Regions from separate parts of the Homo sapiens genome. Here region 1 is linked to region 2. Evidence: fine-mapped expression QTL. A gene starts in region 2. The other region holds a variant in brackets. All regions are shown on one strand. Distances are from middle to middle.

Region 1 (16,206 bases), 100 kb before region 2:
GTCTTTCTTTACTATAAAATTCCTTCAACTTTGCTCTATGTTTGAAATTTTTCATGATAAAATATTGAAAACCATAGTATGAGAAGAATATCTGCTGAAATGTAGAGTATATGAAAACATATAGTCATATGTTGTTTAACAATGGGCTACATTCTGAGAAACGCATCCTTACATGATTTTGTCATTGTGAAAATATCATAGAGTATACTTTCATAAACCTAGATAGTACAGTATACTACACACCTAGACTATCTGGTATAGCCTATTGCTCCTAGGCTACAAACCTGTACAGCATGGTAGTAATGAATATTGCAGGCAACTGTAACATGATGGTAAATATTTGTGTATCTAAAGCTATCTAAACATAGAAAAGGTACAAACACAGTATGAAAAATAAAAAATCATACACCTGCTTAGGGCACTTACCATGAATAGAGCTTGCAGGACTGAAAGTTGCTCTGGGTGTGTCAGTGAGTGGTGAGTGAATGTGAAGGCCTAGGACATGACTGTACACTGCTATAGACTTTATAAATACTGTACATCTAGGCTACACTAAATTTATTCTTAAAATATTTTCTTTCTTCAATAATAAATTAACCTTAGCTTACTATAACTTTTTTACTGTATAAACTTTTTAATTTTTTGAACTTTTTGACTCTCTGTATTAACACTTTGCCTAAAACACAGATTGTACAGCTGTACAAAAATATTTTCTTTATTTATATCCTTATTCTATAAGCTTTTTTGGATTTTTAATGTTTTTTATTTATTTTAATTTTAAAACTTTTTTGTTAAAAGCTAAGACACAAACACACACGTTAGCCTAGGCTTGCACATGGTCAGAATCATCAGAACATCACTAGAAGGTAGCAATTTTTCAGGTCCATTATAATCTTAGGGGACCACAGTTCTACATTCCATCTATCATTGACCAAGGCATCTTTATGCAGTGCATGAATATATATATGGCAGGATATAAAACAGCATCTACAAAATAACCACATTTAAGTTTTATAAAGGTAAAAATATGCACAGAAAAAGGGCTGGGAAGACAACCAAAGTCGCCATATTGCTGCATTTAATGAATATATATTTTTTTAAATTTATCATTATTATTATTATACTTTAAGTTTTAGGGTACATGTGCACAATGTGCAGGTTAGTTACATATGTATACATGTGCCATGCTGGTGTGCTGCACCCATTAACTCATCATTTAGCATTAGGTATATCTCCTAAAGCTATGCCTCCCCCCTCCCCCAACCCCACAACAGTCCCCAGATGTGATGTTCCCCTTCCTGTGTCCATGTGTTCTCATTGTTCAATTCCCGCCTATGAGTGAGAATATGCGGTGTTTGGTTTTTTGTTCTTGCGATAGTTTACTGAGAATGATGATTTCCAATTTCATCCATGTCCCTACAAAGGACACGAACTCATCATTTTTTATGGCTGCATAGTATTCCATGGTGCATATGTGCCACATTTTCTTAATCCAGTCTATCATTGTTGGACATTTGGGTTGGTTCCAAGTCTTTGCTATTGAGAATAGTGCCGCAATAAACATACGTGTGCATGTGTCTTTATGGCAGCATGATTTATAGTCCTTTGGGTATATACCCAGTAATGGGATGGCTGGGTCAAATGGTATTTCTAGTTCTAGATCCCTGAGGAATCACCACACTGACTTCCACAATGGTTGAACTAGTTTACAGTCCCACCAACAGTGGAAAAGTGTTCCTATTTCTCCATATCCTCTCCAGCACCTGTTGTTTCCTGACTTTTGAATGATTGCCATTCTAACTGGTGTGAGATGGTATCTCATTGTGGTTTTGATTTGCATTTCTCTGATAGCCAGTAATGGTGAGCATTTTTTCATGTGTCTTTTGGCTGCATAAATGTCTTCTTTTGGTAAGTGTCTGTTCCTGTCCTTTGCCCACTTTTTGATGGGGTTGTTTGTTTTTTTCTTGTAAATTTGTTTGAGTTCATTGTAGATTCTGGATATTAGCCCTTTGTCAGATGAGTAGGTTGCAAAAATTTTATCCCATTTTGTAGGTTGCCTGTTCACTCTGATGGTAGTTTCTTTTGCTGTGCAGAAGCTCTTGAGTTTAATTAGATCCCATTTGTCAATTTTGGCTTTTGCTGCCATTGCTTTTGGTGTTTTAGACATGAAGTCCTTGCCCATGCCTATGTCCTGAATGGTAATGCCTAGGTTTTCTTCTAGGGTTTTTATGGTTTTAGGTCTAACGTTTAAGTCTTTAATCCATCTTGAATTAATTTTTGTATAAGGTGTAAGGAAGGGATCCAGTTTCAGCTTTCTACATATGGCTAGCCAGTTTTCCCAGCACCATTTATTAAATAGGGAATCCTTTCCCCATTGCTTGTTTTTGTCAGGTTTGTCAAAGATCAAACAGTTGTAGACATGCGGCGTTATTTCTGAGGGCTCTGTTCTCTTCCATTGATCTACATCTCTGTTTTGGTACCAGTACCATGCTGTTTTGGTTACTGTAGCCTTGTAGTATAGTTTGAAGTCAGGTAGTGTGATGCCTCCAGCTTTGTTCTTTTGGCCTAGGATTGACTTGGCGATGTGGGCTCTTTTTTTGGTGCCATATGAACTTTAAAGTAGTTTTTTCCAATTCTGTGAAGAAAGTCATTGGTAGCTTGATGGGGATGGCACTGAATCTATAAATTACCTTGGGCAGTATGGCCATTTTCACGATATTGATTCTTCCTACCCATGAGTATGGAATGTTCTTCCATTTGTTTGTATCCTCTTTTATTTCCTTGAGCAGTGGTTTGTAGTTCTCCTTGAAGAGGTCCTTCACATCCCTTGTAAGTTGGATTCCTAGGTATTTTATTCTCTTTGAAGCAATTGTGAATGGGAGTTCACTCATGATTTGGCTCTCTGTCTGTTATTGGTGTATAAGAATGCTTGTGATTTTTGTACATTGATTTTGTATCCTGAGACTTTGCTGAAGTTGCTATCAGCTTAAGGAGATTTAGGGCTGAAACAATGGGGTTTTCTAGATATACAATCATGTCATCTGCAAACAGGGATAATTTGACTTCCTCTTTTCCTAATTGAATACCCTTTATTTCCTTCTCCTGCCTAATTGCCCTGGCCAGAACTTCCAACACTATTTTGAATAGGAGTGGTGAGAGAGGGCATCCCTGTCTTGTGCCACTTTTCAAAGGGAATGCTTCCAGTTTTTGCCCATTCAGTATGATATTGGCTGTGGGTTTGTCATAGATAGCTCTTATTATTTTGAGATATGTCCCATCAATACCTAATTTATTGAGAGTTTTTAGCATGAAGGTTGTTGAATTTTGTCAAAGGCCTTTTCTGCATCTATTGAGATAATCATGTGGTTTTTGTCTTTGGTTCTGTTTATATGTTGGATTACATTTATTGATTTGCATATATTGAACCAGTCTTGCATCCCAGGGATGAAGCCCACTTGATCATGGTGGATAAGCTTTTTGATGTGCTGCTGGATTCAGTTTGCCAGTATTTTATTGAGGATTTTTGCATCAATGTTCATCAAGGATATTGGTCTAAAATTCTCTTTTTTGGTTGTGTCTCTGCCTGGCTTTGGTATCAGGTTGATGCTGGCCTCATAAAATGAGTTAGGGAGGATTCCCTCTTTTTCTATTGATTGGAATATTTTCAGAAGGAATGATACCAGTTCCTCCTTGTACCTCTGGTAGAATTCGGCTGTGAATCCATCTGGTCCTGGACTCTTTTTGGTTGGTAAGCTATTGATTATTGCCATAATTTCAGAGCCTGTTATTGGTCTATTCAGAGATTCAACTTCTTCCTGGTTTAGTCTTCGGAGGATGTATGTGTCGAGGAATTTATCCATTTCTTCTAGATTTTCTAGTTTATTTGCATAGAGGTGTTTGTAGTATTCTCTGATAGTAGTTTGTATTTCAGTGGGATCGGTGGTGATATGCCCTTTACCATTTTTTATTGTGTCTATTTGATTCTTCTCTCTTTTCTTCTTTATTAGTCTTGCTAGCGGTCTATCAATTTTGTTGATCCTTTCAAAAAACCAGCTCCTGGATTCATTAATTTTTTGAAGGGTTTTTTGTGTCTCTATTTCCTTCAGTTCTGCTCTGATTTTAGTTATTTCTTGCCTTCTGCTAGCTTTTGAATGTGTTTGCTCTTGCTTCTCTAGTTCTTTTAATTGTGATGTTAGGGTGTCAATTTTGGATCTTTCCTGCTTTCTCTTGTGGGCATTTAGTGCTATAAATTTCCCTCTACACACTGCTTTGAATGTGTCCCAGAGATTCTGGTATGCTGTGTCTTTGTTCTCATTGGTTTCAAAGAACATCTTTATTTCTGCCTTCATTTCGTTATGTACCCAGTAGTCATTCAGGAGCAAGTTGTTCAGTTTCCATGTAGTTGATTGGTTTTGAGTGAGTTTCTTAATCCTGAGTTCTAATTTGATTGCACTGTGGTCTGAGAGACAGTTTGTTACAATGTCTGATCTTTTACATTTGCTGAGGAGAGCTTTACTTCCAACTATGTGGTCAATTTTGGAATATGTGTGGTGTGGTGCTGAAAAAAATGTATATTCTGTTGATTTGGGGTGGAGAGTTCTGTAGATGTCTATTAGGTCCGCTTGGTGCAGAGCTGAGTTCAATTCCTGGGTATCCTTGTTAACTTTCTGTCTCGTTGATCTGTCTAATGTTGACAGTGGGGTGTTAAAGTCTCCCATTATTATTGTGTGGGAGTCTAAGTCTCTTTGTAGGTCACTCAGGACTTGCTTTATGAATCTGGGTGCTCCTGTATTGGGTGCATATATATTTAGGATAGTTAGCTCTTCTTGTTGAATTGATCCCTTTACCATTATGTCATGGCCTTCTTTCTCTCTTTTGCCCTTTGTTGGTTTAAAGTCTGTTTTATCAGAGACTAGGATTGCAACCCCTGCCTTTTTTTGTTTTCCATTGGCTTGGTAGATCTTCCTCCATCCTTTTATTTTGAGCCTATGTGTGTCTCTGCACATGAGATGGGTTTCCTGAATACAACACACTGATGGGTCTTGACTCTTTATCCAATTTGCCAGTCTGTGTCTTCTAATTGGAGCATTTAGTCCATTTACATTTAAAGTTAATATAGTTATATGTGAATTTGATCCTGTCATTATGATGTTAGTTGGTTATTTTGCTCATTAGTTGATGCAGTTTCTTCCTAGCCTCGATGGTCTTTACAATTTGGCATGATTTTGCAGTGGCTGGTACTGATTGTTCCTTTACATGTTTAGTGCTTCCTTCAGGAGCTCTTTTAGGGCAAGCCTGGTGGTGACAAAATCTCTCAGCATTTGCTTGTCTGTAAAGGACTTTATTTCTCCTTCACTTATGAAGCTTAGTTTGGCTGGATATGAAATTCTGGGTTGAAAATTCTTTTCTTTAAGAATGTTGAATATTGGCCCCCACTCTCTTCTGGCTTGTAGAGTTTCTGCCGAGAGATCCGCTGTTAGTCTGATGGGCTTCCCTTTGAGGGTAACCTGACCTTTCTCTCTGGCTGCCCTTAACATTTTTTCCTTCATTTCAACTTTGGTGAATCTGACAATTATGTGTCTTGGAGTTGCTTTTCTCGAGGAGTATCTTTGTGGCGTTCTCTGTATTTCCTGAATTTGAATGTTGGCCTGCCTTGCTAGATTGGGAAAGCTCTCCTGGATAATATCCTGCACAGTGTTTTCCAACTTGGTTCCATTCTCCCCATCACTTTCAGGTACACCAATCAGCGGTAGACTTGGTCTTTTCACATAGTCCCATATTTCTTGGAGGCTTTGTTCATTTCTTTTTATTCTTTTTTCTCTAAACTTCCCTTCTCACTTCATTTCATTCATTTCATCTTCCATCACTGATACCCTTTCTTCCAGTTGATCGCATCGGCTCCTGAGGCTTCTGCATTCTTCACGTAGTTCTCGAGCCTTGGCTTTCAGCTCCATCAGCTCCTTTAAGCACTTCTCTGTATTGGTTATTCCAGTTATACAGTCGTCTAAATTTTTTTCAAAGTTTTCAACTTCTTTGCCTTTGGTTTGAATTTCCTCCTGTAGCTCGGAGTAGTTTGATCATCTGAAGCCTTCTTCTCTCAACTCGTCAAAGTCATTCTCCGTCCAGCTTTGTTCCGTTGCTGGTGAGGAGCTGTGTTCCTTTGGAGGAGGAGCGGCGCTCTGCTTTTTAGAGTTTCCACTTTTTCTGCTCTGTTTTTTCCGCTCTGTTTTTTCCCCATCTTTGTGGTTTTATCTACTTTTGGTCTTTGATGATGGTGATGTACAGATGGGTTTTTGGTGTGGATGTCCTTTCTGTTTGTTAGTTTTCCTTCTAACAGACAGGACCCTCAGCTGCAGGTCTGTTGGAGTTTGCTAGAGGTCCACTCCAGACCCTGTTTGCCTGGGTACCAGCAGTGGTGGCTGCAGAAGAGCGGATTTTCGTGATCCACGAATGCTGCTGTCTGATCGTTCCTCTGGAAGTTTTGTCTCAGAGGAGTACCCGGCCGTGTGAGGTGTCAGTCTGCCCCTACTAGGGGGTGCCTCCCAGTTAGGCTGCTCGGGGGTCAGGGGTCAGGGACCCACTTGAGGAGGCAGTCTGCCCATTCTCAGATCTCCAGCTGCGTGCTGGGAGAACCACTGCTCTCTTCAAAGCTGTCAGACAAGGACATTTAAGCCTGCAGAGGTTACTGCTGTCTTTTTGTTTGTCTGTGCCCTGCCCCCAGAGGCGGAGCCTACAGAGGCAGGCAGGCCTCCTTGAGCTGTGGTGGGCTCCACCCAGTTCAAGCTTCCTGCCTGCTTTATTTACCTAAGCAAGCCTGGGCAATGGCGGGCGCCCCTCCCCCAGCCTCACTGACACCTTGCAGTTTGATCTCAGACTGCTGTGCTAGCAATCAGCGAGACTCTGTGGGTGTAGGACTCTCCGAGCCATGTGCGGGATATAATCTCCTGGTGCGCCGTTTTTTAAGCCCATGGGAAAAGCGCAGTATTAGGGTGGGAGTGACCCGATTTTCCAGGTGCCGTCTGTCACCCCTTTCTTTGACTAGGAAAGGGAACTCCCTGACCCCTTGCGCTTCCTGAGTGAGGCAGTGCCTTGCCCTGCTTCGGCTCGCGCACGGTGCGCTGCACCCACTGTCCTGCGCCCACTGTCTGGCACTCCCTAGTGAGATGAACCCGGTACCTCAGATGGAAATGCAGAAATCGCCCGTCTTCTGCGTCGCTCACACTAGGAGCTGTAGACCGGAGCGGTTCCTATTCGGCCATCTTGGCTCCACCTCGGGATTGCATTTCATGAATATTTTAACTCTACCCCATGGACGAATAATATATTATCCATTTGTAAAATACCAAAGGACTGATAGTCCCGTGAATTTACCTAGGCCATCTTAATTATAATTTTAGATTGAATAATACATATTATTTCACAGTTTCCAAAGAGCTCTCTGTCTAGTTGGAGCAGCCTAATGGGGATTTGTCATATCAGGCTGGAATTCAGGGTCTCCTTCCATGTTTTCCAGAGTAGCCTGTAAGTAACTCTACCACAGCATTTCCATATTGTTTTGCAATTGTATACTTCCCCCAAAAGATCATAAAGTCTTTAAAGGCAAGAGCTACATCTTGAAATTCAACTTAGTTATCTCTAGAGATTAGTATGGTATCTGTCACATATGGGACAGTCAATAAATGCTAAATGAATAGAAAAATCAATAAATAAACAGCCATTTCAAGAGTCCCAGCAAAGACTCTCAATTCAAAAATGTCTCCTTCATCCAGATTCTACTGTAGCTGAAATTTGATCACTAGAAACTGTTACCTTTAGATTCCTTACTGCTGTTACCAGAAAAACATTTTTAAATGTAAAAGTGAGAAGATAAAACATTAAGTCACTAAAACCCACTGCTAGATTGCTAGCTCCTTGAAGGCAAGAGAAAGGAACCATGTCAACGCTGAATCC[C/T]GACTATAGTAAGATCCCTAGGACAGATGAGGTTCAAAAAATGCACTCAGTAGAAATCACACATCAAACTGCAAACAGGTTAAGTAAGAGGTTAACATTAAGGGAAGCTGGGTGAAGGGTCTACAAGAACTCTCCATACTATTTTTGCAACTTTTCTGTAAATCTAAAATTATTTCAAAATAAAAAAATCTCTTTTAAAATGCTGATAGGGCCAGGCATGGTAGCTCATGCTTATAAATCCCAGCACTTTGAGAGGCCAAGGTGGGAGGACAGCTTGAGGCCAGGAGTTTGAGACCAGCCTGGGCAACACAGTAAGACCCCCATCTCTACAAAAAATTGAAAAAAATATTAGTGGGCACAGTGGCATGCATCTGTGGTACCAGCTACTCAGGAAGCTGAGGTGGAAGGATCACCTGAACCCAGGAGCTTGAGTCTGTAGTGAGCCATGACTGCACCACTGCACTCCAGCCTGGATGACAGTGAGACCATGACTCCAAAAAAAGAAAAAAAAAATGCTGGCAGGGAGGGTCCCAGGCCATGTGTAAAGTGAGGGAGCTAAAAGCAGCAGGAAGTTTGCAGGCACATGGAAAAGGAAAGGGCCAGAGTAGGAACAGCAATCTCTCCTTCCAGTTTCCAACCCTGTCCAGGACCTGCCATGTTTTAAAGATACTTTAGATTGCAGGAAAATTATTGGGCCTCCCAAAAGGTTCCTGCCCAACAAAGAAAGATAAATCATTCCTTGACCAAGCTGATGTTTCCAATCCAGATCATAATATTCCAGAGAGATATATCGTGGGGGGAAATTAATTTCTTTAAATGTATATATACCTACACACACACACACACACACACACACACAAACATAGAGACAGTATTTTTAACGTACTTTGAGCAGCTCAACGGGAAAGGAATGTGGAATGAACAAAGGAGGCGTCTGAGGTGCAGTCTACCTGAAAGCTAGCCTTCTATTGGTCACCATTATTCCCTGCCCCGACCACTATTTACTTATGTGTCAGCTGAGAATGACAACCGAGGTACATTTCACACAAAAATGAGCTCACAAATGGTGCCCTCGGTCTCCAAGGGCAGAAGTCATATCTGCTAATGTAGTCTGTACCATCCCTGGCTCACTACCCCAGGAAGGTAAAGAACTTGGCCAGGCAAGGTGGCTCACGCCTGTAATCCCAGCACTTTGGGAGGCTGAGGCGGGCGGATCACGAGGTCAGGAGATCGAGACCATCCTGGCTAATGTGATGAAACTCCGTCTCTACTAAAAATACAAAAAAAAATTAACCAGGTGTGGTGGCGGGTGCCTGTAGTCCCAGCTACTTGGGAGGCTGAGGCAGGAGAATGGCGTGAACCCAGGAGGCGGAGGTTGTGATGAGCCGAGATCACGCCACTGCACTCCAGCCTGGGCGACAGAGTGAGACTGTCTCAAAAAAAACAAACAAACAAAAAAAATACTTAATAAATGCTTCCAGTCATGCCAGTGACTGAAAAAGTCAGTTTGCTTCCCAGCTCCTTTACTCTCCTCGAGTAATATTTATTTAGTATTCATTTGTACATGGGAAGCCCCATCCTAGCACTGTAGCACTGCTTAAGAATGTCTGACACCTGCTCAAAGAGAGGAATTTCATCCAAACCCAAAAGGAGGAAAAACTGTTGTTTTAAGGGTTTCCTAGATTTTTTGGGAGGGGACAGAAGTTTTAAGAGGAGTGCTCTTTCAACATTGTGGGTAGTTTTTAGGGAGGGCTGGCTGGGGAGAAAGAGAGTATGTAAATGCTGACTGGTAGGGAAATGGACTTTTCCAATCTTTGAGCAGGCTGTTTGCTCCGCTCTGTCTCTGACAGGGTCAAGTCAATCCCAAGAAACCAGCATTACCTGGTTCCAGGACTCAGTGGGTTCCAAGTCCAAGTCACCTATTTTTGGTAAGCCCATGATTCTAAGCCTTCCAAGAGTAAAAGTGTCAAACTTTGATTCTGAGAGCCTTTCTATGCAAGTATACTGCTGAATTTTTTGGTTTAAACAATGGTTAGGGATAGAGGGTGTGCTACTGTTCACCTACAGGGCGAGAAGAAGGCAGCCTGTTCTTTCTCACCACTCATCATTTACCTATAGCTTCAGCCCTGGACCACCTACAGCCACGTATTCCTGATGGGAAATTTCTAGATGGGCCAGATCCCAGCTCAAGGCAAGAGACTAACAATTCCAGAACCAGCAACCAAAGGAGACAACCCTGGCCAGTGGACAGACCTCAGTACACCTAACATTACTAGGCTGCACATGAAGGCAGGACCCACGAATCTTTCTCCCCAAATTATTGTGCCTGCTTTGTTCTTTCCCAGATCTTAAGTTCCAAAAGGGGTTGTTTTCCATTTGTAAATATTGCATCTCTCTGAGATATTCTAAGATTAAATAAAAATTGAGTTACTCAAAAGCACAGAGCCACATAAAATTCTGCAATCCTGTTTTGTAACTCCTGCTTTATCTACCTAGTTCCATCTCTGTGCCTCTTCCAAACCTTTTATAAACCTGCTGGATAAGGCCTTGCCTGATTTCTTGGTCTTCCTGTACCACTTCCTCCAGTCTTTACCTCAAAATAGCCTCTTCAGTTTTCATTCTATATTCTATCTTCTTCAGAATCCTTCAGATTCAAAATGCGTCAAGAAAGAGACTCTAAGTTCAGTACTACTCAAGCTTCCAGGATCAGAAACATTTACCTCCCCTGTTTAAATAATATATAACACAATCTCACTGGTAAGCAATAGCCTTTACCATTCTTTTCAGCTCCTGATCCCTTCTATCCCTGTAAATATCTCCATCTCTCTCTCAGAGGACAGAACTGTGGTTCTCAACGTGTTTAAACCATAAGGAGGTGGGGGATGAGGAGAGCAGTAGGGATTTTTCTATGGGTCATTACAATTTTGAAAATAAATATCGAAAACATTATAGATGCCCTTGTTCACTTAATAGCCAAGAAAGCATATCCTATAACATACAATATGCATCTAAGATCATCTGCCACAGCACTTGGCAATGTATAATGATATGAAAATTAAAATCCACTAGATAATCCTTAACTATCAAATACTAATAAATACACATATTAAATGGAAAGAGGGAAAAAATAAATAATCTAGGTTAAAAATAATAGATAACATGTTCTAACTTTTCACATTTTTTCTTATTTTCTCATTTTTTCCTCACTCATTCCTTATTGTAATCCTAGCACTTTGGGAGGCCAAGGCAGGAGGACTGTTTGAGCCCAGGGGTTGGAGACTAGCCTGGGCAATATAGCGAGACCCCATCACTACAAAAAATTTAAAAATTAGCCAGGTGTGGTGGTGCAAGCCTGTGGTCCCTGATACTTGGGAGGCTGAGCTGGGAGGATCACTTGAGCCTGGGAGATCAAGGCTGCAGTGAGCTGTGGTCATGCCACTGCACTATGTCCTGGGTGACAGAGTGAGACCATATCTCAAAAAAAAAGTGGGGGGGCAGGGGAAAGGCTTTCACAGCATAAATAGAGGTAGTGGAATGAATCACTTAATGAAGCAGTGCCATTCTGGGTAGGAAATCTCAACTAGAAACAAGTACCTTGTGTTCAAGATTATGGAAGTCTCATTTTTGCCTTATGTGCTAATGGCATGTCATATTTGATTTATTTTTTGTTGAAATGGGAAGACCTGTCCTCTGTCCCAGGAAGCAAAGTTGTTTGTAAATAAATTTAAAAAATAATTACAATTCTAAATCTCTTCCCATATTACATAACTGGTTTCATATTTTTATGTTAATTCAGCACTCTTTGAAGGCATGTGATATAGTTTAGATATGTGTCCCCTCCAAGTCTCATGTTGAAATTTGATTCCCAATATTGGAGATGCGGCCTGGTGGGGGATGCTTGGATCATGAGGGTGGATCCTTGATGAAGGGCTTGGTGCCATTTTCTTAGGAGTGAATAACTTCTCACTCTTAGTTCCCACAAGAACTGACTGTTAAAAAAAGCCCGGTACTCCCTCCCCTCTCTCTCTTGCTTCTGCTCTCTTACCATGTGACCTCCACATACAGCAGCTTCTCTTCACCTTCCGCAATGAGTAGAGGTTTCCCAAGGCCCTCACCAGAAGCAGATGCTGGTGCCATGCTTATTTTACAGCCTACAGAACCATGAGCCAAACCAACCTCATTTCTTTATAAATAACTCGGCCTCAGGTATTTCTTTATAGCAACATAAATAGACTAAGACAATATACTGCAATATACTTCTTTTCATTTAGTGAAAATACTTCCTTAACAAAGTTCATAGAAAACTCAGTGTAGCCTTGCAGTCATTGTAAATATTTTATTAACTATCCTGTTCCAAAAATGGCCCTTCTCTTCCTACTCACCACCGAGGTCAATTTCATTCCCCCATTTAGGCCAGGCACAGTGGCTCACACCTGTAATACTAGCACTTGGAGAGGCCAAGACAGGGGGAATGTTAGAGGCCAGCCTGGGCAACGCAGTGAGACACCCACCTCTACAAAAATGAAAAAATTAGCCATGCATGGTGGCATGTGCTGTAGACTCAGCTACTCAGGAGGCTGAGGTGGGAGGATCACTTGAGCTCAGGAGTTCGAAGTTCCAGTGAGCCCTGATCATGTCACTGTACTCCAGCTTGGGTGACAGAGCAAGACCCTATCTCAAGAAAAAAATTCCTTTATCCAATTTCCCACAATATCATTCAACAAAAAAAGAAGGGTAAACTGGCTGTTGGAAAGTAACCAGTAGTTATAGATGGACAGAAAATCTTTTGTGTAATCTTCCTTCAATTTTTAAAAAATTTTCACTATGTTGCCAAGGCTGGTCTTGAACTCCTGGTATCAAGTGATCCTTTCTTCTCAGCCTCCTGAGTAGGTGGGACTACAGGCTCACACCATGCCCACTTGAATGTTATTTATTAAAACTAAGCTTTTGATAAAGACTCAACAGCAGAGAATTAAAGATTTTTCTCTTTTTGTGAACATTCAGCGTTCAATTATTCAAAATTACCGATCAAGAATATATTCATATGCTTCACAGTGGTCATCTGAGTGGCAGATTGCTGTCCCCTTCTGAAAAATGTTAAGAAGTCTAGCAATGACACTGGAATAAATGGCCACTTCACCTTTGCATGGAAGGGGTCGATGATAGACTGTAATAGGTAATGATTATGGGTGTCCTGAATGTTTTTCCCTCATTGCCATTTGGTAATAGCAGCCCCTTCCATTTGGGGACTCCTTTCTTATTTCATGTAGTTTTGTAAGGATAATAATCATGTTTGTCTATAGCCTCCCCAATTCCTATCTTCTATTCATCATCACGAAAGTAGGCAATGTGACCCAGGCCTAGCTAATCAGAGACCCCCATTTTCCAGGCTACAGTGATGTGTTCAGGGAGAAGCAAATGATCTCATTAGACAAGTAAGAACCCTCCCTAGAACTTTTGTGATACAATCTAGTGGGTAAGACATTTACGTTTTTAGGATAGAAGTACAGGACAATTGATAGCCTGGAGCTTACTTCCTGTGTCACATGGAGGACATACATACAGTAGAAGAAAGGGAAGCAAGGAGACACAGAGACAAACAGAGACTGGGTCGGGGGGTAATGGGCAAGAGCAAATGAATTTCTCTGATAGTAGAGTCCTGACAGTTTTCTTCTATTTTATGAGTTAAAATTTCTTCCCAGGCTGGGCGCGGCGGCTCCCTCCTATAATCCTAGCACGTTGGGAGGCCGAGGTGCGTGGATCACCTGCAGGCAGCAGTTTGAGACCAGCCTGGCCAACGTGGTGAAACCCCTTCTCTCCTAAAAATACAAAAATTAGGCATGGTGACACATGCCTGTAATCCCAGCTATCTGGGAGGCTGAAGCAAGTGAATTGCTGGAACCCAGGAGGCAGAGGTTGCAGTGAGCCGAGATCGCACCACTGCACTTCTGCCTGGGCGACAGAACAAGACTCCGTCTCAAAATAACATAACATGACATAACATAACATGACATAACATAACATAACATAACATAACATAACATAACATAACATAAAATTTTTTCCCAGCTAGATGAGCTAATAAATTTCTTGTTCTGCTTAAACAGGTTTGAGTTGGGTTTCTATCATGTATAACTTCAAACATCCTGAGTAATATACTGGCTGAGGAAGTATCTGGGGATACAGTCCTGATTTTCTTTTCTATTCACTTAAATAACTGGCTTAATAAACCACTGAGGGCCCAGTGTTCCATGCTGAAGGAGATACTCATGTTAAGTCTAACCTAGAATTTTTCCAAAGCTGGTATTACTAAATCACAGCCAGAGGAAAAAAAATCTCAGTGTGGAAATGATCAGTAGCCAACTGTACAGGCATTGTAGCTTGTTTCTGATAAATGTTTGAGGATAAGTGAGTTGCAAACATTTTCCCTGAGAGATGCTATTCCAGTTAAATGTAGGGAGATATATATTTTAAAAGGTAATTGAGGAGAATCACCAGACTAAAGGGAATAGGTTTAGAATAGTTGATCTCGAGTTACTGTTGGTAAGGCTAATTTGGTAAGGAAGTTTTCTCTTTGGGCTATTGTTTGTACAAATATGACCATATAACAAGTTGGAGAACATTTACCTTTAGGTTTTGTGCAGTTAGGATTCATGCACCCAGGGGACATTCCTATTGTTTTGCATTCAAAGTAAATCTGAGTGGAATTCTGATTCCTAAGGATGGGAACAGAATTGAAAGAGGATCTAAGAACAAAGGATTTGAGGTTAAGATCTGCCCACAGGGAGTCTATGCTATAGAGAAAGTCTGGTGTTGTTACAATAAAGTAGGCCTTTGGAACCTAGTATGTCCTAATATACTTGGGGAGAAGCAATGAACTAAATGGAACCTGAAAGGAATAAGCATGCCAGAAGAATTCAGCATTTTTTTCATTTGTGGGATTGTAACCAAGTATTCCCATTTTTCTAAGAGAAAGAGAATGAGTTGGGTTTTTTTTAATTTTTTTCTCTTCTTTTCTCTTTCCTCCTTTCCCCCTGTTCCCTACTTTCTACTTGGCTCTTTAGAAATGCAATTAGAACCTCTATCTTCCCTTCACCAGACACTGTCTACAGATCAAGCTTATCTAACTGTGTGCTTGGAAGCTCCAGAGCCAAAAACCTCTCCCACCAGGAGATTGCCTCAAGAGATGACAGTCAATTTACAACCTAAAGTATGCCCACTACAAAACTCTTTCCTACATGGAGAATATCCTGAGACAAAGACCACTTTAAAAACTAGTTCTGCCCATGATGGCGCCAGCTCAACCATCTGGTAGATAAGGTACCAAAGTGAGTCACATGGACCCTCACCTGTTCACTCCCTCCCCTGTATGCCATTCATGCCAAGTTCTCCCTTTAAAAGCCCCTGCTTTGTGCTCCCAAAGCAAAGCAGTATCCATAAGGTAGGAGTACTTCTTCCCCTAACCTACCTTTGGAATAAAAAGTCACTTTCTTTATACTAGACCTCTCTCTTGTTAATTAGACTCCGCAAGTGGTGAGCAACTGAACCTGTAATTTGGTTACAGAATTTTGGTGAAACTTTTATTTGTTTCCTCAAAGACAAATAAGGCGCAAATGTGGAGAAACATAATGGGCCCATTCCAATTTCAGAAGAAGAATATGAAGTTAATGTAGTAAACCAGATGTTTCAGTATAACGGTCATTAAATTTCTTTAGCTGTATTGAAAATATGGGCCAACACCAACAATGTAAGGACTGCGTGAAGACAGAGAAATGACACCTCTCTAGCATTCTCTGGTCTGCAGCCAGTAGAGTGTTTTTAGTTGTCCTTGCCTGCTATGAATTGAACACAAAATTGTATATTGTTCAAGAATATTAATAATAAACTGAATGGCCTCAAATGAAACTCTCCTTCTGTACTCAATGTCTAGCACATTGCCCCTTTCTCTTCTCCTTTTAGGATTCCCATAATGCATGTTTTAGGTTTGATGGTATCCCACAGGTCCCTTAGGCTCTGCTCATTTTTCTTCCTTCTTTTTGCTTTCTACTCCTCAGATTGGGTGATTCCTGTTGCCCTATCTAAAAGTTTCCTAATTCTTTCTTCCACCTGCTCAAATCTTCTTTTGAACCCCTCTACTGAATTTTTCACTTCAGTTCTTGTATCTTTCAGCTCCTGAATTTCTACATGGTTTCACTTTATAATTTCTATTTTTTTAAACTGATATTACCTATTTGGTCATGAATTGTTCTCCTGATT
Region 2 (16,206 bases):
CTTCAGCCTCTGATTGGTCACTTTCCACAACCAATCAGATGTTTGCATAGGGTGTAACTCTGTAACTTCACTTTAGCCTCTGCTTGGTGCTTGGTCGCTTTCTGCAACCAATCAGACAGATCTTGGGCCACTACTTCATTTACATAGGGTGTATATCAAGTAACCAATGGGAAGCCTCTAGAGGGCATTGAAACCCCAGAAAATTCTGAAACCAGGCCCATGAGCTGCTTGCTCGGGCCTGCTCCCACCCTGTGAAGTGTGCTTTCGCTTTCAATAAATCTCTGCCTTTGTTGCTTCATTCTTTCCTTGCTTTGTTTGTGCATTTAGTCCAATTCTTTGTTCAAAGCACCAAGAACCTGCACACCCTCCACTGGTAACACTAGCACTTTGGGAGGCCAAGACAGGGGAATCTCTTGGGCCGGGGAGTTTAAGACCAGCCTGAGCAACATGCCAAAACCTTGTCTCTACAAAAAAATACAAAAATTAGCCAGGCATGGTGGCATGCACCTGTAGTCCCAGATACTCAGGAGACTGAGGTGGGAGATTCGCTTGAGCCTAGGAAGCTGAGGCTGCAATGAGCCCAAATTGCACTAGTGCACTCCAGCCTGGATGACAGAGTGAGACCCTGCTTCAAAAAAAAAAGGATAATACATTAGACATGTTGTATTTTCCCACAGAAAAGATCAAAATATGAATATATACAAACTATAAGTTTCCCGTGTCCTAAGAAATTCTTATTTTATTAAGAAAAATTTTTATACCAAGAAAATCAAGAAACATTTTTTCTAATAAATAAATATGGAGACATCATCCTTATTTTGAGGATGTACAAAGTTTTCTATTAAATGACCTGAAGAAGATCATACTTTTAAAACATTCCTTATATCACTATATACTTAGGCATAAATACACAAATGTGTACAATACATATGTGCATATATAAATATAGGGGGTATGTATGTGTGTATAGAAATTACATTTGTAAACATATTTTTCTATACTCATTCTAGTATATTATAAAGAAAATCAACCTAAAATGAATGGAATCCAAATAAAAGTTCCATGAACACAAACAAAATAGAAGATATTCATTTTGAGGAATAAGACACACTCCTCTAATGAAATGGTTATGAAAAAAAGCTTGGACTAAATAAAAATATTAATCAACTCTTTTAGACATTCAGTAAAAACTTTGCCACAGGAATTCCTGAAATGTTCCCACCTCAATGAGCCTGAGTCATGAAATTTAGCCAAAGTATCTTATTTCACATTTTCCACACACAGAGGGAAATCAGTTCCTAGAACTTTCTACAAGCCAAAAGATCCTAAAATGGACCCATGACTAATATTTCAACAGAGGTAAACTTTAACAATTTAAGGAGAAGAGCTAAAATACACTCTGCATTCTGCAAAACCTAGTGGATTTTCTGAACTCCTTAATGGCATGTCCTAAAATAATGTTCTTAGGAAAATGTTAAAAAAAAAAAAACACTATGCTCCATAAAAGCTAATTAGCAGCTCAACCAACAGCTGCAGAGTATTTTTATAGCTGTTACCAATTACTATCTTCTCTTGGGGAAAACATTAAAACCAAAAAGAACCTGAAATGTGAGGAAATGAGGTGAACCTTACCTAAAAGCTCAGCACCTTTTGCTGTTATGACCTCTTATTTCAGTGGCTGGTCATCTATTAATAATTTCTGTCTTCAGTCTTGTGCATTCAGAAAGAAAGAATATGTTCATATAACTAAAAATGAAGGGACACTACTAGAGGAAATGTAAATAAAAGAAATTTAACATTTTCATAACAGTGACTCACAAACCTTTCCTACAGAAAACACAAGTGTACAATGATAACACTTTCAAGGATGTTCTCTGAAGCACTGTTCTTAATATAGAAAAATGGAAAACAATCCAAATTCCCAACAAAAGGCTGTTTAAATAAACCATGTTATAGGGCCAGGCATGGTGGCTCACGCCTGTAATCCCAGCACTTTGGGAGGTCAAGGCAGGTGGATCACCTGAGGTCAGGAGTTTGAGACCAACCTGGCCAAACCCTGGCTCTCCTAAAAATACAAGAATTAGCCAGACATGGTGATGCACACCTGTAGTCCTAGCTACTCAGGAGGCTGAGGCAGGAGAATTGCTCGAACCTGGGAGGGAGAGGTTGCAGTGAGCTGACATTGCACCACTGCACTCCAGCCTGGGTGACAGAGCAAGACTCCATCTCAAAAAAAAACAAAAAAAAAAACCAAAAAAACTATATCTATTCAATGCATTACTATACAGCCAGTAAAAAAAACAAAATGAGAATGATGTGCATGTATGGTCATAAAAACATTTTCAAGGTATATTATTGAGTTAAAAATAAAAACCAAGTTGAAAGTTGCATAGGATTACCCCAGTAGTTATTAACAACCACGTTAATAATAAACATTTTTAAATAGAGGGAAAAATGAAGGGAAATATATCTATTTATAGCAGTTTATCCAGAATATAACATTGCAGTGTACTTTAACTTTTAACATTATATATTTCTATATTGTTTAGAATTTGAATAATATGTATCATGTATGTAATAAGAAAATTAACTCTCATTTAAGTTAGTGATATAATTGGAAAGGAAGTAGGAGAAAATCATATTTATAAAGAAAAGGATAAACTTAAGGGTGTTAACTTTTTATAATAGCTCTAAAATATCATTTGTCTCTACCTGTCTTTTAGAAGGCAGTAGTATCCTCACTCTCAGAACTTCAAAATTAAGCAAAACACATAGATACTGGAAAAGTCCCCTTAGCATCTCCCCTTAGTAATGCCTTCTGAGAATAAAAGTTTAGTCCAAATTCCAGTATTTATCAAATTCAACTGGGCAAGAATGCCAGCTTCTAAACATTGCAGACAAACCGCACATCTCTACTTCTAAGTAAAAGTAATTACAGAATTAACAACAAAAGGGTACAGATTCTGCAGACTCGAAAAACCATTTGAAGCATTTTCAAAATGGAAATTTAAGGAATTAGATAAAAATACTTTTGAATCTATAGTCCAGTAACCTGTTCAAAGATTGTAAAAACTAGATAGAGGCCAGACGCGGTGGCTCAAGCCTGTAATCCCAGCCCTTTGGGAGGCCGAGGCGGGCAGATCACCCAAGGTCAGGAGTTTGAGACCAGCCTGGCCAACATGGTGAAACCCCATCTCTACTAAAAAAATACAAAACTTAGCCGGGCATGGTGGCGCATGCCTGTAGTCCCAGCTACTCGGGAGGCTAAGGCAAGAGAATCACTTGGACCTGGAAGGCGGAGGTTGCAGTGAGCCGAGATTGCACCACTGCACTCCAGCCTGGGCGACAGAGTGAGACTCCGTCTCAAAAAAAAAAAACAAACAAACACTAACTAGATAGAAGGCAAAAGAACTGCCTAGAAAGGAAACTGAAGAATCACTAGCAAGGTAAAACTTTCTACCTGCCTGGGAAAGGTTTGTCTCTACAGTTGACCTTGTCTGGGAGAGGTTTGTCTCTACAGTTATGTGACCAAGAGCATAACATTTAAACTCCTACACCTCAATTTCCTCACCTGTAAAATGGAAGAACTGGGAATACATAATTTTGGCTCTAAAATTCTGACAAAAGACCTTTGCTCCATCCTTGCCAAAGGGCTTTTTTTTTTAAGTAATACATATGAGGCCAGGCGCGGTGGCTCATGTCTGTAATCCCAGCACTTTGGGAGACTGAGGCAGGCGGATCACTTGAGGCCAGGAATTCGAGACCAGCCTGGCCAACATGGTGAAACCCTATCTCCACTAAAAATACAAAAATTAGCCAAGCATGTTGGTGCATGCCTATAGTCCCAGCTACTCGGGAGGTTGAGGCAGGAGAATGGCTTGAACCCAAGAGGCGAAGGTTGCAGTGAGCTAAGATTGTGCCACCGCACTCCAGCCTGGGCAACAGAGCGAGACTCTGCCTCAAAAAATAAATAAAGTAAAATAAAGTAATACATACGTACACAGTATAAAATATTATCTAATATTATAAGGTACATAGCCAAAAACAGCAGATTCCTGTCTGGCTCCTCCTCACCCCTGAGTTTCATTCTCCGAAAGAAGGTCCTTCAACTCTTTTAGCTATTTCTTCTGGTAATTACTTCTATATTTGTAAATCATGCACTTATACTGCTATTTACAGAGTTTTTCAATTTTAGACATTGCCAAAATTCCTTATTCAATCTATCAAGGTATTTATTCACCTACGCCACTTCCCAAGATCTCCCTCCCAAATTTAATGGAGGTTACTTCAATTTTATTGCACAGCTATACTGTTGAGATGCCAAGGCTATACAGACTATATGTTACATGTGTACACACACTTACACATACACATATATGTACATATTCATATATAGTCCTGTCATCCTGTCTCCACATGAGCTCATATTTTGGTTAATAAGAAATAAGAGGGCCAGGCACGGTGGCTCACGTCTATAATCCCAGCACTTTGGGAGGCCAAGGCAAGTGGATCACCTGAGGTCAGGAGTTCGAGACCAGCCTGACCAACATGGAGGAACCCCATCTCTACTTAAAATACAAAATTAGCCAGGCGTGGTGGTGCTTGCCTGTAATCCTAGCTACTCGGGAGGCTGAGGCAGGAGAATCCCTTGAACCCGGGAGGCAGAGGTTGCGGTGAGCTGAGATCACGCCATTGCACTCCAGCCTAGGCAACAAGAGCAAAACTCCATCAAAAAAAAAAAAAAAAGAAAGAAAGAGAGAGAGAGAGAAAGAAAGAAAGAAGGGAGGCAGGGAGGGAGGGAGGGAGGGAGGGAGGGAGGGAGGAAGGAAGGAAGGAAGGAAGGAAGGAAAGAAAGGAAAGAAAGAAAGAAAGAAAGAAAAAGAAAAGCCCATTTCACATCCAACCACTTCACAAAATGTAACAAGGAAAAAAGTGAAAGCATGGGCTGTAAATCAGAAATCCTGAATTCAGGTCTCAGTCCACAATATACAGGAGCAAAGAGTATGCCCATAAAAGTCCCTTATTATTGGCCGAACACAGTGGCTCACGCCTGTAATCCCAGCACTTTGGGAGGCCGAGGTGGGTGGGTCACCTGAGGTCAGGAGTTTGAGACCACCCTGGCCAACATGGCGAAACCCCATCTCTACTAAAAATACAAAAAAAATTAGCTGAGCATGGTGGTGGGCACCTGTAATCCCAGCTACTCAGGAGGCTGAGGTAGGAGAATCGCTGGAACTGGGAGGCAGAGGTTGCAGTGAGCCGAGATCACACCATTGCACTCCAGCCTGGGCAACAAGAGTGAAACTCCGTCTCAAAAAAGTCCCTTATTATCTCTGAACCTCATCTGCTTTCCTCCTGTGTAATCTAAACACAATGGCATCTACTACAAAATGGTTAAATCACAAGGCACAAACATGGTACATGAAAGCACTCTGTGAAACATAAAGCACTACAGAACTGTTCACTTCTGTTATTGTTTTCATTAAGAGATCCCTATAAATGAAGTTCCTGGAGTTTCTTGTCACTCTTGAGCACTGTTCCCCTACCTGGGCTAAGAACCAAGGGTTGGAAGTTGCTAAAAATAAGGATGAAGTAGATCTAAATTGTGTTTCAATGGCAGAATCTGATCCAGATCTTCACTGGGCCTACGTATCACCCTAGAAGACAGATGTACACAGAATAAAGATCAAGTGTCTAAACAGATTAAATAAAGCAATTTTGCTTTATATTTGCATGGAGAAAGGAGGTTCCTTATTAAATTTTCTTTATGAAAGTAATACAAGAGGCCAGGCATGGTGGCTCACACCTGTAATCCCAGAATTTTGGGAGACCAAGGCAGGCGGATTGCTTGAGTCCAGGAGCTCAAGGGCAGCCTGGGCAACGTGGCAAAACCCTGTCTGTATGAAAATACAAAAAATTAACAGAGTGTGATGGCATGAACCTGTGGTCCCAGCTACTCAGGAGGCTAAGGTGGGAGGACTGCCTGAGCCCAGGAGATCAAGGCTGCAGTGAGCCGAGATCATGCCACTGAACTCTAGCCTGGGCCAGAGAGAGAGAGAGACCCTAACTTTAAAAAAAAAAAAATATATATATAATTTCACTCCTCAGAGGCAATTCTTGTTTTTTCTCATTTTACCTCCATATCTCTACATAATATATTTGTACATCTGCTTCTTGTTTGCAGTCATTATCTATCAAGTTCCTATTAAAGAAAGAACTTAGCAGAGAAAGTATTTTGAACCAATCTTGGGAGGCAGAGTACAGAACTGTCCAGCAATGCATCACTCTGACTATGTAAAAATAAAACACTCCTTTTATTTCTAGTCTTCAAGTCCTCCATTAAAAGTCCTACACAATGTCTTTATATGAGAGCCAAGAAAAAAGGTAGCTGGGCAGTTGGACCTAAATTTTTAGACCACTCTCAATCACTCTCTGAATCCACTTCAGTGATGTCCAGTTTCTCTGCCCCTTTCCAGCCACCCTACACAGTTTAATCCTGTTCCTTGTCCTACAGGACAAATGATAAATAGGACCCCAAACTTAATTTATTTCAAGACAGGCATGGACATAATTCTTATGAGCTCTGCGGAAAGGGATTAACTGGAACTAAAAAGATATCAACCTTTAATTATGCGAAAAGTTACCTAAAGCCAACAAGTATACTGTATTAAAGAGTAAATTTATGGACTAAATATCCTGCTCAATTTCGGTCCAAAGAAGACCTTTGAAGTTCTCCAAACGTGGACTTCAGCTGTGGTTCACTACATGTGGACAGCTTCGGGGACAGCATCCTGCCTAGTGCCAGGTGTACAAGTGAACTTGAGGTCAGGCAGGTGACCCTGACAAGCAGGCATAATACATTAAGGAGAGGAAATCTTCCCTCTCATTAATCAACAGGATAAAGGTAATTAAGCAGGAATTATTTTTCAATGACCTATATAATTTCATCAGGGCTGCTATGACTATTAGCAGGGAGCAGCTGACTTCCTAATGAGATGAATTTGATAGCACAGCCCTTCCAGAGAAGCCAAGGGAGCAAGCCCAATCTATAGGGAAGCAACAATTGTTAGGCATTGTTTACTCCTCCTCCTGAAAGCTGTCTCTCCTTCTCAACATTTGGCTCTTTCCCTTCAGGGGGGTTTCCCTGTCCCTGGATAGCTGGGGCTGCAGCATCTGCTGAATAGTGGAAGCTAGATCTGCTGTGAATGGGTGGGTCCAGGAGGCTGGGACACTAATTCACTAGACCTGCTCATGTGATTCCCAAAGTCCCAAGCCAACAAGGCTACCGCCGCCTGCACCAACACCTCGCTCTGACCAGGCCTGAAATAAGACACCAAGGTAGTTCTTCCCACTCCCTAGCAGAAGCGGAGTTAACAAGGGACCTTTGTTGAGCCAGAGGAAACACAAACACATACACACTATCAATAATAACCACGACTTGAACGCAGTTTCATCACAGAATTTACGAAATTGAGCAACAGCTACCTAACCAGTAAGTCCTTACACCAGGAAAGGGCTGCAAACCTCAGAGGGGCACCGCCTCTGTCTCCTGTGTAAGCAAGTTGATTTACAGGGGAAACCTGAACTCCACATCTCTTTGCCTTTTCCTGTGCCTCCCAGAGGACCCTGGGACCAAGGAATGGGATGGAGGGCCCTAATGACATATTCCTTCGTCAAAACAAGCTGGCTCTCTCTCTCCCAGGGTCAGTCACCGCGTTACGCCCCGTCCCGGAGCCCGAAACCCTAGAAGTCACCTCCTCCCCCCTGCGCCCCCGCCCGACGCAGCGACCTCGTTTGGAACATCCCCAGCCGGCCCCCAGCCCAATGCCTGCTCCCTCAGCCCAATGCCCGCACCCCCTGCCCAGTTGGCGGATGCAGAGAAGGGACATTTCGACTCTCCCTCCTCCTTCAACCCTCTAAAATAAAAGAATCCCTCAAGCGCAAATCTCCGGCCAGCACAGCACCTACCTGTCCCCGGCCGTGGCTCCTCCTCCCCGAGCAGTGGGGCTCGCTGGACAAGTGTCCTCAGATAGTCCAGAAAGTTTGCTCTGCGGTCCCGGGGACGCCTGCGCGGGACCCAGTGAGGAAAGCCGGGCTGGCTCCTCGCACCTCGGGCGGCCGCCGCTCGAAAGTCTTGGCCCAGGTCCTCCAGGCCCGGCTCAAACTCAGGAGTGCCCGGGAAGAATGTAGGTCGTGAGAAGGTCGGAGCGCAACTTTTCGAAGGTGCGTCAGCCGCGGGCTGAGGCGCGTGGGTCACTGCCTCCCCCCAGCCTCTCCCTAGTGAGCGCGGGGGGGGCGGGGGCGGGGGCGGGGGCCGGGGCGGGGCAGGGGCGGGGGTGGGGCCCAACCTGCCTGGAGGCCTCGGGGAGCGCGCCCCGGCCCCGCCCCCGCCGCCGCCGGCCCCGCCTCTGCCGCTGGGACACGCCGCCGCCAGGTGCGCCGGGGACTTAGGCAGTGCCGCGCCGCACGGCCCGCGCCGGTTTCCAAGGTGAAGGAGGAGGAGCCTCTGAGGGAAAGTTTCCACAGAAACTTGAGCTGGGCGCAGTGTAGCACTCGCGCCCTTGGGGGCTAGCGTTTGGCCGGAGCTACACACTCTTTACTCACGCACGCACACCGCCGTACACAGCACAATCGTTCACCGTCCCGCCAAAGGCTCGTCTCTCGGGTTCTGCCTAGTGGAAGGAGTCGGACAACGCCGCACGTCACGGGCGTTTCGGATTTCTTGCTTCCCAAAGGTTTGACGGCGGCCACCGGCGCCCCGGCCCAGCTCTGCTTTCCTTTGCTGACTCCTTCCTTTAGGTGTGAATTTTAAAATGCTGATACCGCCCCAAGAGAGCTGAGTCAAGTGAGGCAAACGTTCGCCTGTTGTTCTCCTGACAGACTCCCTGCAGTGGGCAGGGGAAATGTGGCCTTGGCCGACATTAATGAAGTGCCAGGATGGAGGGAGGGGGCCTGCTGATTTGTTCTGTTTTACTTTTTAAGGGTAACTAGAGCGTTACTGGAGTCGTCTGTGGGTTTGGGGAGTATGTGGCGCGTGTGTGTGTCACACATTTCACTGGCAACTCCCGCCAACCCCTTCCCAAGAAATGAAGGCTCTAATGTGGGCAGTTCTGCAACAAAGGTGAAACTTCCCCAAATCACGATTCCCCGCAAGATGAGAGAGCAGGTGCAGCATCCATTTTCCCACTATCACGCTTGAGATGGTGGCTTTGGGCACTGCCGGGTGCCCCGACATCCTTCCCAGAGCCCAGCCTTCCCACCCAGGCCCGGCCCTGCGCGGCCGCCTGCCTTTGCATCAGAGACCGCGGCTGTGCCATTGCCAAGGTGGGCAGCGCCGCCTCGCTTCCCCATTCCTCCGTCTCCCACGCCTCTTGCGTGTTTGAGTCGCGAAGTGATGGACTTTAAATCTCAGAGGAGGAATGAGAAACTTGGTTAGTGGCTCTCTTGGCATGTTCGTAGCCCTGTGGTTGAAGTGGCTGAAACCTGCGTTGAGCCTCAGTCCAAGCAGCTGGGGCCACACCAGTTTGCAAAAGCGGATGTGGCAGTTTCCACCGCAGCAGCAGCCTGCTGGCGCCTCATCAGATTCTCCTTTGGAGGAAGTATCTTCTTCCCTTCATTCTCGGTGAATGGCATCCAGAGATAACCAAAATCAGGTGTATCTAGTTTCAAGTTCTGTCTTGCAACCGTGATAATTGGAGGATGCAAACTTTACACTTTCTTCTCTAGCTGTCTACCACCACTGCTGCGCTTGTGGATGACTGCAGGAACACCGGGTACTTGCCACAAGTATCTCTCCAGATTCATCAGCCTTTCACCTGTGACAAGCTCAGTCAAGAAGTGGCTCCTAAGTAAAAGCTGGGGAAGAACAAGGAAGATAGAGCTCAGAGTAGAAAGCTGTGAAGTTCTGCACAACAGGTCCCCTTGGCCTGCTCTAACAGTTGGAAGGTGGGGGAAGCATTCATTTACTCAACAAATATATACTGAGTGCCTTTTGCATGCTAGGCACGCTTCTAGGGGTTGAGGACACAGCAGAGAGCACAAACAACAATTCCAGCCCTCGTGGAGCTTACCTCTTCCACGTGGGAAAGACAGATGGTAAATGTATAAGGACAATATATGGACTGCTGTATGATTAGAAATGCTATGGAGAGGCTAGGAGTGCTGTCTCATGCCTGTAATCCCGCAGTTTGGGAGGCCAAAGGAGGAGGATCACTTGAGGCCAGAAGTTGGAGACCCAACCTGGGCAACATAGTAAGACCCCCTATCTACAAAAAGTTTAAAAATTAGCCAGGCATGGTGGCGTGCACCTGTAGTCCTAGCTATCCAGGAGGCTGAGGTGGGAGGATCACTTGAGCCCACTGCATTCCAGCCTGGGTGACAGAGTGAGACCCTGTTTTGAAAGAAAGAAAGAAATGCTGTGGATAAAAATTAAGCAGAGAGGGTACATAGAAAGTATGAGGGGTGCTATGTTCGGAGAGGGGTGATGATCAAGGAAAGCTTCTGGAGGAGGTAACATTTGAGGAACGACTTGAGGGAGGTTAGGGATATCTGAGCAGACAACTTCCCAGGCAGAAAGCATAGCAAATGTAAAGGCCCTGAGGCAGGAGTATGCCTAAGTGTACTAGGAGCAATCCAGAAGGCACCATGAAAGAATGGAGAAGATGAAGTCAAAGAAGTGAAAGGTGGGGGTGATGCAGATCAGGTAAGGCTTTTACTCTGAGTGAGTTGGTTGGAGCCATTGGAGGATTTTGTGTAGAAAAGTGACACTTTCTGACATTGTAATTGGATCACTTTGACTGCTGGGTTAAGAATAAACAGTAGGGTGTAAGGGTAGAAGCACAGAGACTGGTTAAGAGGCTACTAAAATAATCTAGGGTCAGCCGGGTGCGGTGGCTCATGCCTGTAATTCCAGCACTTTGGGAGGCCAAGGTGGGTGGGTCACAAGGTCAGGAGATCAAGACCATCCTGGCCAACATGGTGAAACCCCGCCTCTACTAAAAATACAAAAAATTAGCCAGGTGTGGTGGCACGCACCTGTAGTCCCAGCTACTCAGGAGGCTAAGGCAGGAGAATCACTTGAACTCAGGAGGCGGAGGTTGCAGTGAGTAGAGGTTGCAGTGAGCCGAGATTGCACCACTGCACTCCAGCCTGGGCGACAGAGCGAGACTCCATCTCACAAAAAGATAATAATAATAATTGAGGGACAAGAAGATAGAGATGTGGACCAGAGAAATAGTGGTAGAGATGATAAGCTGATGGTTTCCTCACATTGGATGTGGGGTATAAAGGAAGGAGATGAGAAGGACTCTGAGGCTTTTGGCCTGGGCAGCATAAGGATGGAACTGCTATAACAAAGTTGGAGAAGACTTCAAAAGGAGGTTAGGGTAAAATCAAGGCAGGAAGGAGAGGCGCATAATTTGAATGTGGGCAGCGTAAGGACGGAACTGCTATAACAAAGTTGGAGAAGACTTCAAAAGGAGGTTAGGGTAAAATCAAGGCAGGAAAGGAGAGGCGCATAATTTGAATGGTCTTCAGTTTCTTCAACTTATAAAATGAAAGTAATACCTACTTTGTTAAGGTTGTTTTAGGATGACAAATTAGCATAGTGAAGTGTATAACACAATGCCTAATACATGATAGACACTTAAGAATGTTAGTTCCCTCTCTACAAATATGAATTTCATTCATATCCATTATGCCCTCTGGGAGTGAAACAGACTCATTCTTTTGAGGAAATAAGTCTTGCTAAAGGTAAAGGGGCTGTCTCCTTCTCCCATTCTTGCCATATGACACTGTCTGCTCTCTCTTTGTCTTCCACCATGAAGACAGGCATGGTAGCTCATGTGGAAGCTTCCCGAGGCCCTCACCCAGAAGCAGATGCTGGAGCCATGCTTGTACAGCTTGCAGAACTGTAAGCCAATTAAAACTCTTTTCTTTATAAATTAAAATAGATAAATAAAAATAAAGGATAAGCAGATGTGGTGGTACGGGCCTATAGTCCCAACTGCTTAGGAGGCTGAGGCAGAAGGATCAATTGAGCCCAGGAGGTCGAGGTTGCAGTGAGCTTTGAGTGCCACTGCACGCCCACCTGGGCAACAGAGTGAGACCCTGTCTCTTCTTAAAAAAAAAAAAAGTTGGAAAATATCTATTACATGGAAATATATTTATAATATTGTATAAAGTAAGTCTACTATAAAAGTAAGTGTGTAAAGTAAGATTCTCTTTACAAATATTAATAATGATTATCTCAGCCAGGCATGGTAGCTTATGCCTGTAATCCCAGAACTTTGGGAGGCCGAGGCAGGTGGATCACCTGAGGTCAGGAGTTCGAGACCAGCCTGACCAACAAGGTGAAACCCCGTCTCTACTAAAAATACAACAATTAGCTGGGCGTGTTGGCAGGCGCCTGTAATCCCAGCCACTCGTGAGTCTGAAGCAAGAGAATCACTTGAACCTGGGAGGCGGAGGTTGCAGTGAGCCAAGATTGCACCATTGCACTTCAGCCTAGGCAACAAGAGTGAAACTCCATCTCAAAAAAATCATAATAATAATAATGATTATCTCAGTACTAGGATGACAGTTTATTTTTATTCTCTGTGCTTTTCTCTACTTCCAAGTTTTCTGCCATAGGAAGGTATCACTTTCTCTCAGGAGTGGAATTGCTGGATGATAGGCTGTATATACAATGAGATTTAGTTGATACTGCCAAACAATTTTCCAAAGTGATTATACCAATTTATGCTCCCACTGACAACATATAAGAATTCCAATATGGAGCAGTGCGTTTTTTAACAGCATCATCCAGTTAAACAGCAATTAATTTGAACCTACTGCTTTAGAAGTTAATTAAGCAAAAGTTAAAAATAAGTATATTGGCTGTAAATGCATATATTAGTAACAGTAGCCGTTTCTAAATCATGTTTTTTATTAATGTATTTCATTTTATTCTTTTTGTTTTGTTTTGTTTTGTTTGAGACGGAGTTTCACTCTTTGGTCCAGGCTAGAGTGCAGTGGTGCAATCTCGGCTCACTGCAACCTCCGCCTTCCAGTTTCAAGTGATTCTCCTGCCTTGAAATTGCAATCCCGAGTAGCTGGGATTGCAGGCGCCCACCATCATGCCCAGCTAATTGTTGTATTTTTAGTAGAGATGGGGCTTCACCATGTTGACCAGGCTGGTCTTAAACTCCTGACCTTGTGATCGGCCTGCCTCGGCCTCCCAAAGCGCTGGGATTACAGGCATGAGCCACCATGCCTGGCCCCTCTTTATTCATTTTTTATACTCTTCAGCTCTGTTATTATAGTACTTTAAAGCACTGAAATTATATTTCTTTATTGTAGAAGCCAGTCAAGACTTCTCCCTCTTTTTCTTACCACCTTTATTTCCATTTTAAAATGTAATTATATTTGAAATTACATTTTTTTCAAATTATTAAACGTGTTAAATACTAGATATTCAAGATTACATGAACAAAGGAGAGAAGTATTTCATCATTCACACACACACACATACATACACAAATTCTTCTTTCACAGAGCTCATAGGACTATAGATCTTAACACTCCTATGAGGAAGTGGACAAAGTGCATCATCTGTGTTTAAGAAAAGCAGAAGCTAAAATGCAACATAGGGAAGTTGTCCCAGATACCTTGGAATTGAAAGTAAAAAGTACATGAAGACATTATCATCTGTAGTCAGATTAAATCTAAATTTAAATTATCTTCTGTAGTTGCTTCTCTTAAAAAAAGAGCTCAAAAATGAACAATGTGTATTCTGTTATAATAGTAATCATGCTGTCAAGAAATTCTTTTTTCTTTTTTTTTTTTTGAGATGGAATCTCGCTCTGTCACCCAGGCTGGAGTGCAGTGGCACGATCTCGGCTCACTGCAAGCTCTACCTCCTGGGTTCACGCCATTCTCCTGCCTCAGCCTCCCAAGTAGCTGGGACTACAGGCTCCCACCACCACACCCAGCTAATTTTGTGTATTTTTAGTAGAGATGGGGTTTCACCGTGTTAGCCAGGATGGTCTCGATCTCCTGACCTTGTGATCCGCCCACCTCGGCCTCCCAAAGTGCTGGGATTACAGGCATGAGCCACTGTGCCTGGCCAAGAAATTCTTTTTTCTAACAAGTACAATTAATAAAAATATGTTAGCAGAGAGGGTAGTGGCAGAGATTCCCACAATAGTACCCAGTGCTCAGTCTGGTGGAGTTGGCAGTACATGCTGCAGCATTTTTGCCAAATAGTGGTAATAATGGCATGTCCATTGGAGTAGATCTATAATATGATTTGGGTGTTGTTCCTAGTTATATAGCTGTCAAGTTTACATAACCTCTGTGGACAACTTTATAGATTCAATAAGCTACTTAATATTATAATAAGTTATTTTCTTTTAAATCAGCTGCATATGTTTTCTGCAGTTTGTAGCAGAACTCTTGACAGAGCTGTATGTTACATTTATTTTTGTCTGTTTTCAATGGCCAAGACATCAAGTACTGTTTTGCAAGGTAGTGGTCATAGTGGGTGTATTAGTCCGTTCTCACACTGCTATAAAGATACTACCTGAGACTGAGTGATGTATAAAGGAAAGGGGTTTAATTGACTTACAGTTCCACATGGCTGAGGAAGCCTCAGAAAACTTACAATCATGGTAGAAGGCGAAGGGGAAGCAAGCACCTTCTTCACGAGGCAGCAGGAGAATGAGAGTGTGAGCATCAGATAATGTGAGAACTCACTCACTACCAGGAAAACAGCATGGGTGAAACCGCCCCCGTGATCCAGTCACCTCCCACCAGGTCCCTCCCTTGATACATGGGGATTACAATTTGAGAAGAGATTTGGATGGGGACACAGAGCCAAACCATATCAGTGGGGATCATTGTGTTGTTATCAAACCTAAAGGGAATACAAGGTAGACACTACTAGTTGCCTATTCAATTTCAAGTCTCTATTTTTATCTTTCTACCAGAACGCCCTCCCCGCTTTTTTATAGCAGCAAAATGCAACCACCTTTGCAACTACAGGTAGTTATATGACACAGTCCAAGCCAATGGAATGTAAGAGGATGTCCTTGCATGTACTTTCAGAAAGCCCAGCTGGCTTGGTTCCATGAATCTTTGCCCTTCTTTCCATCCACTTCTTCCTGCTTGGACATTGGTTACCTGGAGAAGCAGAAGCCATTTTAAGATGATGAAAGCAAAAGTTAAATGTATGAGATGATGGTGCAGAAAGCCAAAAGGGGCCTCCAGAACACTGAGCTTTGTGGAGTCGTGTACCATAGCTGTATTGCCGACCTCTGAACTTCCTGCTGAGATAAAAAACAATCCTTATGTGTTTATACTACTTTTATTTCAGTTTCTTTTAAGTATAGCAAACACATTCCAAATAATATGCATCTGAAGTTTTTGGTTTTGTTTTTAAATTTTTTTTTTAGGGATGGGTTCTGGCTGCGTAGTGGCTAGAGTGTAGTGGCTATTCTTAGGTGCGGTCATAGCTCACTACAGCCTCTAACTGGCCTCAAGCAATCCTCCCACCTCAGCTTCCAGGGTAGCTGGGATTACAGGAGAGCACCACACTGAAGTTTCTGTTAAATAGAATGTTTGCTGTAGATTTTTAGTTGATGTCCTCTGTTAGGTTGAAAACCTTCCTTTATTTTCTTGTGAAATTTCTAAGAGATTTTTAAATCATTAACTGGTATTGAACTTTATAAAATGATTTTTCTGTGTCTGAGATGATCATGTGATTATTTTTCCTGTTTATGTCCCTTGATGTGATGATTTTTATTGTAGATCTTCCTTTATTGAACCAAATTTACGTTATTTATATTAACCCTATTTGATTGTAATATATTTTTAGTAGGGTATTAGACTCTGTTACCTAACATTTTACTTAGCATTATTTTGCATCTATGTTCATAAGTAAAATAGGAGTTTTTTTCTTTATGTGACTAGGTATCAACATTATATTGGCCTTATAAATTATGTTGAACACTTTGCCTATTTTTTCTGTTTTTCCAGGGCAACTTGTATTGTAGGAATCATCAGGCAATAAGATGCAGGGAAAACTCTGGATACTGCATACCCAAAGTTGAATACATTTTTCTTCTTTTTGAAACTTTTAATACACATAAAGACAAGTGCACGTATTATAAGTATATAGTTCAGTTTATTTCGACAACCTGAATAAACCCATGTAATCAGCACCCAGAT

The links. PIP is the estimated chance that this variant, and not a neighbour inherited with it, causes the effect.
Region 1: its variant is the best candidate, but not a certain one, in a credible set for the expression of FHIP1A-DT in whole blood (INTERVAL, PIP 0.56).

The regions. Positions count from the first base shown.
Region 1 is chr4:151,502,363-151,518,568 of GRCh38, reverse strand. The region is part of intron 3 of FHIP1A (FHF complex subunit HOOK interacting protein 1A); the gene reads right to left. Among named protein-coding and RNA genes, the nearest start is that of FHIP1A, 100 kb to the right of the region's middle. The variant C/T (reference allele first, on the strand shown) is at 7,951.
Region 2 is chr4:151,401,228-151,417,433 of GRCh38, reverse strand. FHIP1A-DT (FHIP1A divergent transcript) reads left to right here and starts at 8,542. Exons shown (of 3, transcript NR_183963.1): 1 at 8,542-10,251; 2 at 11,826-11,911; 3 at 16,015-16,206. It overlaps FHIP1A (FHF complex subunit HOOK interacting protein 1A), which reads right to left and starts at 8,258. Exons shown (of 14, transcript NM_001109977.3): 1 at 7,969-8,258. RefSeq lists silencers at 8,299-8,468, 8,589-9,061 and enhancers at 8,288-8,987, 8,988-9,687, 9,519-9,828.